Linked DNA regions of Homo sapiens. The protein of the gene in region 2 interacts with the protein of the main gene of each other region in a biochemical or structural test. Each region holds a gene or a part of one and is shown on either strand. Other genes may lie near its edges.

Region 1 (3,600 bases), on a different chromosome or scaffold from region 2:
ATAGTGAAACTCCGTCTCTACTAAAAATACAAAAAATTAGCCAGGCGTGGTGGCGGGCACCTGTATTCTCAGCTACTCGGGAGGCTGAGGCAGGAGAATCGCTTGAGCCCGGGAGGCAGAGGTTGCAGTGAACCAAGATTGCACCACTGCACTCCAGCCTGGGCAACAGTGCAAGACTCCGTTTCAAAAAAAAAAACTCATATATACAGTCCTCAATTTAACAATGCTTCTATTTAACAATGTTTAGACTTTCTGTGAAAGCAATCAGTAGACACTTACTTCTCCAAGTCCTCACATAACCATTCTGGTTTTCACCTTCAGTACAGTATTCAAGTAATTACATGAGATATTTAACACCTTATTATAAAATAGGCCAGGTGGCCAGGTGCAGTGGCTCACACCTATAATCCCAGAACTCTGGGGGGTCAAGGCAGGTAGATCACCTGAGATCAGGAGTTCAAGACCAGCCTGGCCAACACAGTCAAACCCCGTGTCCACTAAAAATACAAAAATTAGCCGGGTGTGGTGGCAGGCGCCTGTAGTTCCAGCTACTCAGGAGGCTGAAGCAGGAGAATTGCTCGAGCCCAGGAGGCAGAGGTTGCACTGAGCTGAGATCGCGCCACTGCACTCCAGCCTGGGTGACAGGAGTGAAACCCTGTCTCAAAAAAATTAATTAATTAAATAAATAAAATTTTAAAATAAAATAAAATAGGCCAGGTGCAGTGACTCACAACTGTAAACCCAATATTTCGGGTGGTGGAGGTAGGAGGATTGCTTGAGGGCAGGTGTTTGAGACCCCACCTCTACAAAAAATAATAACAATAATCTTTGTGTTAGATAATTTTGCCCAACTGTACCCTGACATAAGTGTTCTGAGCATGTTTAAAGGAGGCTAGGCTAAACTATGACGTTTGGTATCTTAGGTGTATTAAATGTAATTTCAATTTAACAATATTTTCAACTTAGAATGGTTTTATTTAGACATAATGCCATTGAAAGTTGAGGAGCATCTGTGTACTTTGGAAAGCAAAAGAAGACAAAAAATCAGGTGGCTTGATATAAAAGTCAAAAAGAAATTGTACAATAACCTGCTGCATTACTCCAAAGGGTCCATTTACATAAAATGTCACTGGTACCCCTTTTCCCCCAGGCTTGCTCCTAAAGTGAAACACACCTGTTCGTTCAATCTATATTCCCTGACACCTAAGGACCCAGTGACTTAATGAGGCAGAACACAAAGGAAGACAGCTCTTAACAACTCCACCTATCCCTTTGTGATGCTAAATAACCATAGGGCTTATCTTTTCAGCATCCTAAATGGCCTTCCGGCCTTGATGTAATCTTGCAGGAACCATTCTTTTATAAACTGGAGACCGTAACAGAGGCTTCCACCCTTGTCTTAGAATTAACCTGATAGACAGTTAGACTGTCATAACAGGCTGGGTGCAGTGGCTCATACCTGTAATCCCAGCACTTTGGGAGGCCAAGGCAAGAGGACCACTTGAGGCCACGAGTTCAATACCAGCCTGGCCAACATAGTGGGACCCCCCCCGCCCCCCGTACAAAAAATAAGAAAATTAGACATGATGGCATGCAGCTGTGGGCTCAGCTACTCAGGAAGGTGAGGTGGGAGGATCACTTGAGCCCAGGAGTTGAAGGCTGCAGTGAGCTATGATCATACCACTTACATACCAGCCTGGGTGGCAGAGTGAGACCCTATCTCCAAAGAACAGAAAACAAACCAAGACTCTGATAACAGAACCACCAGTAAAATCAAAGTAACATCCACTGCTGACCTAATCGGATTAACAAAAAAAAGGGAGGGAGAGGAGGGCATTCTCTTCCTCCCCAAACTCAGGCTACTACTCTAGGAGAACATAGGAAACAACACTATAGTAGTCCCCACCATCAGAGGGGGATAAGATCCAAGACCCCCCAGTGGATGCCTGAAACCTCGCATAGTACAGAACCCTATATAAATTATGCACAACTTTCTTTTTCCTTCTTCACAATTTCACAAATAGAAGATTAGTTCTTACCATAGACGTTAGCAGCCTCAGCATACAAATTTTTTTATTTCCATATTAAATTGAGATCTTTCACCTTTTCAGTAAAAGGAAACACTTTACAGCTTCTCTTTACAATATCCAAATTGCCAGCATCTTTTGCTTTGGGGCCATTATTAAATATAAGGGTGACATGAACACAAGCACTGCAAAACCATGTAATTTAAGACTTATGAACTGATTATTTCTTTTTTTTTTTTTTTTTGAAACGGAGTCTCAGTCACCCAGGCTGGAGTGCAGTGGCACAATTTTGGCTCATTGCAACCTCCACCTCCTGGGTTCAAGCAATTCTCCTGCTTCAGCCTTCCAAGTAGTTGGGATTACAGGCGCACACCACCATGCCCGGCTAATTTGTATATTTTTTTTAGTAGAGACAGGGTTTTCACCGTATTGGCCAGCCTGGTCTCAAACTGCAGACCTCAGGTGATCCTCAGGTCCACCTCAGCCTCCCAAACTGCTAGGATTACAGGCCTGAGCCACCATGCCCAGCCATGAATTGACTATTTCTTATGAATTTTCCACTTAATAGTTTCAGATCGCAGCTGACCATTGGTAAGTGAAACTACTACCGCTGATAAGGAGGGACTAAGATACCCACACTGATTGTATTTACACAGCTTTCAAGATACAAAGGTTCTGCCAGGTGTGGTGGTTCATGTCTGTAATCCCAGCACTTTGGGAGGCCAACGCAGGTAGATTGCTTGAGCCCAGGAATTCAAGACCAGCCTGGGCACCATGGTGAAATCCAGTATCTACAGAAAATACAAAAAATTAGCAGGGCATGGTGGTGTGCACCTGTAGTCCCAGCTACTTGGGAAGCTGAGGTGGGAGGATCACTTGAGTCCAGGAGGTTGAGGCTGCAGTGAGCCGTGATCGAGCCTGCACTCCAGCCTGGGTGACAGAGCGAGACCCTGTCTCAAGGAAAATAAAAAAGATACAAAGGTTCTGATGAGTTTTCTTTAAAACATACCAGGAAGGCAATGCCAAAACTGAGTATGCCACACCAGGGACTGCTGGTCTAATACTACCTGAGCCAGGCTGAGTCTTCCCCACAGCTTTTTAAGCAAGACAGGACAACTGGAGAAAATGTGTCAACAAGTTACTATGAGAGATTAGAGGCAAGCGGATCTGGAGTCAGACACTTGAGTGAAACTGTGCATGACTTTAGGTAGATCACAACTTCTCTAAACCTGTTTTCTCATCTGAAAATAAGTAGACAGACCATGAGGATTAAGTGAAGTGACGCATGTAATACTCCCCCCACCCACCCATGCTTGCTATCTGGGAGCTATTGCTATTGGAAAGCCATGCAGAGAAGTGAGTGAAAAACCAAAGTGAGGGCAGCAAAACTCCAGGACTGTAGACAGAAATCCAGTCCCAAAACCTATAAAACTACTAGAAGAAAACACTGGGGAAGTGCTCCAGGACACTCATCTTGGGCACAGGTTTTTTGGGCACAGGGTTTTTACGTAAGACCTCAAAAGCACAGGCAACTAAAGCAAAAACAGACAACTGGGATTTCATCAAGCTAAAA
Region 2 (3,972 bases):
CCAAAACACCCTTCCCCAACCCCAAAGTAATCTAAAATAGGCAGTAGAACACAATGACCTTTTAAAATGAAGGGGTACAAATTCACATTTAATATAGTATACAATACAATCAATAATACAATCAGCTACTATAAGCTTTACAATGTACAATTTATTCAAATGGCTGAACTGTTCAGTGGTTAAGGAGACAGTTATGTGCCAGAAAGATGTAGTATTTTTTGCATGGTTTAATGAAAATATAAAAGCTATTTGTCCAAATAAAAGCCATCGTCACTATGTACTTGGTTTTGCGCTTTTTTTTCCTTAAAAAAAAAAAAAGGCCACTGAAATGTATAAAATGGTCTGAACATGATGGTGGTATCAAAGTCGATGCCTCTTCACATGGCAATAACAGTGCATTTAACATTAACTCACGGGTTAATTCTGCAAATGATTTCATAGCATTACTTTGGCTAGCACAACAGTTTTAGACAGCACTCAGATAAATATAGGTATGTGAAATGTAAAGCAATTATCTTATGCAACTTTAATTATGGTTGAGTACTATCAAGTGAAAACTGAAAATAAAAGCACTTTACAGTAGGAAACTTTTGTAAAGATAGGGCTCCACATAATGTGTAACTTTTAAAGTCTTTATATCACATTGTTAGCAAATTTTGTTTTTTAACACTATCATGGAGTAGCCTACTCTGCATTAGCAGACATTTGAAATAAGAAATAGTCAAGCATGCCATGTGGTGGTCTAAAAATCAAAACAATACACTTATTTGTATATACAGCATCACTCAGTACCTGCTAAAATGAATGTGAAGATTACAGAATCTAACATCTTATACTACAATAAAAAAAAAGTGACCAATGAAGCAGAAAATAGGAATTAAAAGATCTAACCTCAAATGACTTTAAAGCATTCATATAAGAAATAAATGCATATTGCACAAACAGTGAAAGCATATGTTCCACCAAGCAATTCAGTTCCAGGTGGGAGACAACACAGCATTAGCCTAATACATGACAATAATCACAGAAGAGCAAGTGTTCTTTTCTGTAATGAAAAAGCTGTGAAAACATAGAAGACTCTGCCACATGAAGAGTTTAGAAGGAAAAAATACAAACCCAAACTTAGATGAAAAGCCAAAAAATTTAAATATCGAAAAACTCGAAACTGTGGCACATCAAAAAATGTTGAGTAACTGTCTTCTGTGAGAGCTGAAAGTTTTTGTTGACACAAAAGTATTTATGTACAACTAAGGCTTACTGGTTAAATATCTGAGGCATATCTGGCCTTGAACACTTTCCTTATATGCTGGAGCTGTAAACAAGTTTTCTCAGTCATTAAAAAAAAATCTTCTCAGCAGCTGCATTAACATGAAACAATGGTCTTGATTAAAAAAAAAAAACAAAAAACAAACCAACAACAACAAAAACACCCCAGAAAATTAAACAAAATGAAACAAAAATTCTAGATAAGAGGGCATTTGGCAGGATATCCGAAAATGACAGTCTCCAAGGATTCTTCCCAGACTTCCAGTGACTGCCAATTATGGTCCACTGGGTTACTAATATGTGCAATTCCATTACTTGCTGCTTTTTTTTTTTTTATTTGGAAAGTTTGCTTATAACTCTGATCAAGGCCCCATTTTCATCCTTTAGCCTCTGGTTGTCTGCTTTTAGGTCTGGTAACATCTATAAAGAGAAAAATTGAAGATCAAGTTTTACCTTCAATATTAAAAGATAAAACATTATTCTTAATAAATGTTATATTTTCACCACAAAACACATGATCAAGCTTTGTCAGTTATATATATTTCTAGTATCTAAAACATGTATCAGGAAGAAGGAAAAAAACCACACCTGGATTTGTAAAGCTAATTAGTTTCATAAATGCTGGAATGAAAGGTTTATTCTCTCCAAATTTTCCATTGAAATTTACTAAATCACTTGATTTTATGACTCACAAGCACACCACATTCCAGCAGCCAAGACAAGCCTGTTTTTGTTAGGATAGGCTCTTAAAAGAGGTTCCTGTCAGCACCTAAACCAAAGACTTTTGCTTTTATGTATGTCAGACCTAAAATCATAATACTTAATATTGTTCCACAAGAAAGTCAAACTACCTAGGAAAACATTGAGGAAATTAGACTTGTTCTAAATTATTAAAATTCCTTAAACGATTCACCTACAGTAGCTCAGTTTAAAATGCCTAAACAATGTCCGATCCCAGATAGATGCTTATTAAATGGTAACAAGCAATTACTATTATTAGAATAGTGCATCATGTTTAAGCTAAAGTAGAAAGTCTGTATCTATGATCCAACTATTACAAAAATAACCAATTTTGAAGCAAATAGCCTCATATCTTCAAACAACACATCTCAATTTTCTGTTGTTTTACAGACAAATTGATGAAGGGGTGAAAATATTACAAGTTAACTGAATACTCTACTAAGGATGATTAAAACTGTATGTTCTTTGCCAGTTTCACTAGGAAATGAAATAGCTCATATTTTTGGTCCCTAAACCATACTTTCCAAAATAGTCCTCTTTCCTCAGTTTTCAAAATGTATTAGTTTATCTAACTTGATAAAAGTAAAACTTCTATTTGCAAAACTAGGTAAAGCAAAATCTTTAAGAAGATTTAATTTTACGTGGAACCAATATGTTCTTATCTGTGTTCAGAATCTTTAAGATATAAAATATAGTAATATTAAGTTTATTCATTTGAATATTTGTAATATAAACTTAAATATAAACTAATGTGGTTCTGACTTCAAATGACATTATTTTGAAAAACATAATGCATGCTTAATCTTCAGCTTCAAAATATATTAATTATATGTAAAATGTTATATACTGTTGGTTTTCTCTCTAGTAAAGAACTGTAAATAATAGTCATATTTTAAGTCCTAAAATATCTGTATAGCTAAAAAATGTGCAAAAGCTTTACAAAAGTACAGATAAGTCTTTAACTTAAATTCCAAAATCATCCCTAATTTTAATGTAGCTCATCAATTGCAATATACAATTAGTGACAATTTCTAACATTCTAAGAAGCCATGCATAATTAGTTATATGATATGCTCCAGACACAATGGCATTAATTTGTAAAAGTGAGCTCTTACAAAACACGCCTACTAATATAAAAACACCTGCCTGGCTCTACCAAGAAGAAATGATGAAACTAAAAATTATAGGTTCACAGACTGCAGTTGCCTATAGAACCCTGAGCGCTTGGCTACCACTCTTGTCAAGGCCCTATTCTCAGTCAGCAGTCGCTCATTTAACTCCCTCAGAGATTGAATTTGCTTTATTTGGTGCAGGTTCTGCAGGAATCAGAACATAAAGAAATAGGAATAAAAAATAAGAAAATGGAAAAGAGTATAATAAGAATGTAATCACAGGTAATTTTTTAAAAATATTACGTCTTAAAGGAACAAGAGATTCAGAAAGGTAAACACTGTATTCCTAAAATTCTATTTCAAACTAAGTAATACATAAGCAAACAAAATACAAAAGATTTGTCTCCAATCTTCAAAGCCATTCAATAATGGTCTAATAACAAACCAAACAATTTAATAATGAAATATCTAAATCTTGAACTTCTAATTCTGTGGGTACAATATACTTACTATGCACTGGTTCATTAATTCACAATGTGATAAAGATTTTATGAAGGACAGTGTGGTAAGAGGTAATCAATTAACTATGCTACTTGTGAAGACATTCAAAACATAATTATTTCTATAGGTAATATGGAGTTTGATAAAATACAGCTCTGCCTGTTCACTCCCCTAATGTCCTTTACTTTCAAAGGAGAACATTTTATAGTAACCCCCTCCACTACTTACTCGCCAAAAAACATGAAAGTATATAGAAACATAAAGAATAAATAATAAATCCTACATCTTATTATTATTGTCTAACTTTTTCTATACCTGAACAGCAAAAGTGCTACACAAATTAATTATCAAA

Evidence for each region. The genes of interacting proteins can lie anywhere in the genome.
Region 1: the proteins of PPP1R12A (region 2) and CHEK2 form a complex in vitro, tested with the Homo sapiens proteins (one study listed by BioGRID).

Annotation. Positions count from the first base shown.
Region 1 is NC_000022.11:28,735,221-28,738,820, forward strand, and holds part of CHEK2 (serine/threonine-protein kinase Chk2), read right to left. Parts: exon of another isoform or gene 2,064-3,600; coding exon of another isoform or gene 2,040-2,063; intron 1-2,039. UniProt on the Homo sapiens protein: Serine/threonine-protein kinase which is required for checkpoint-mediated cell cycle arrest, activation of DNA repair and apoptosis in response to the presence of DNA double-strand breaks.
Region 2 is NC_000012.12:79,774,330-79,778,301, forward strand, and holds part of PPP1R12A (protein phosphatase 1 regulatory subunit 12A), read right to left. Parts: intron 1,687-3,972; coding exon 1,600-1,686; 3' UTR 1-1,599. UniProt on the Homo sapiens protein: Key regulator of protein phosphatase 1C (PPP1C). Mediates binding to myosin. As part of the PPP1C complex, involved in dephosphorylation of PLK1. Capable of inhibiting HIF1AN-dependent suppression of HIF1A activity.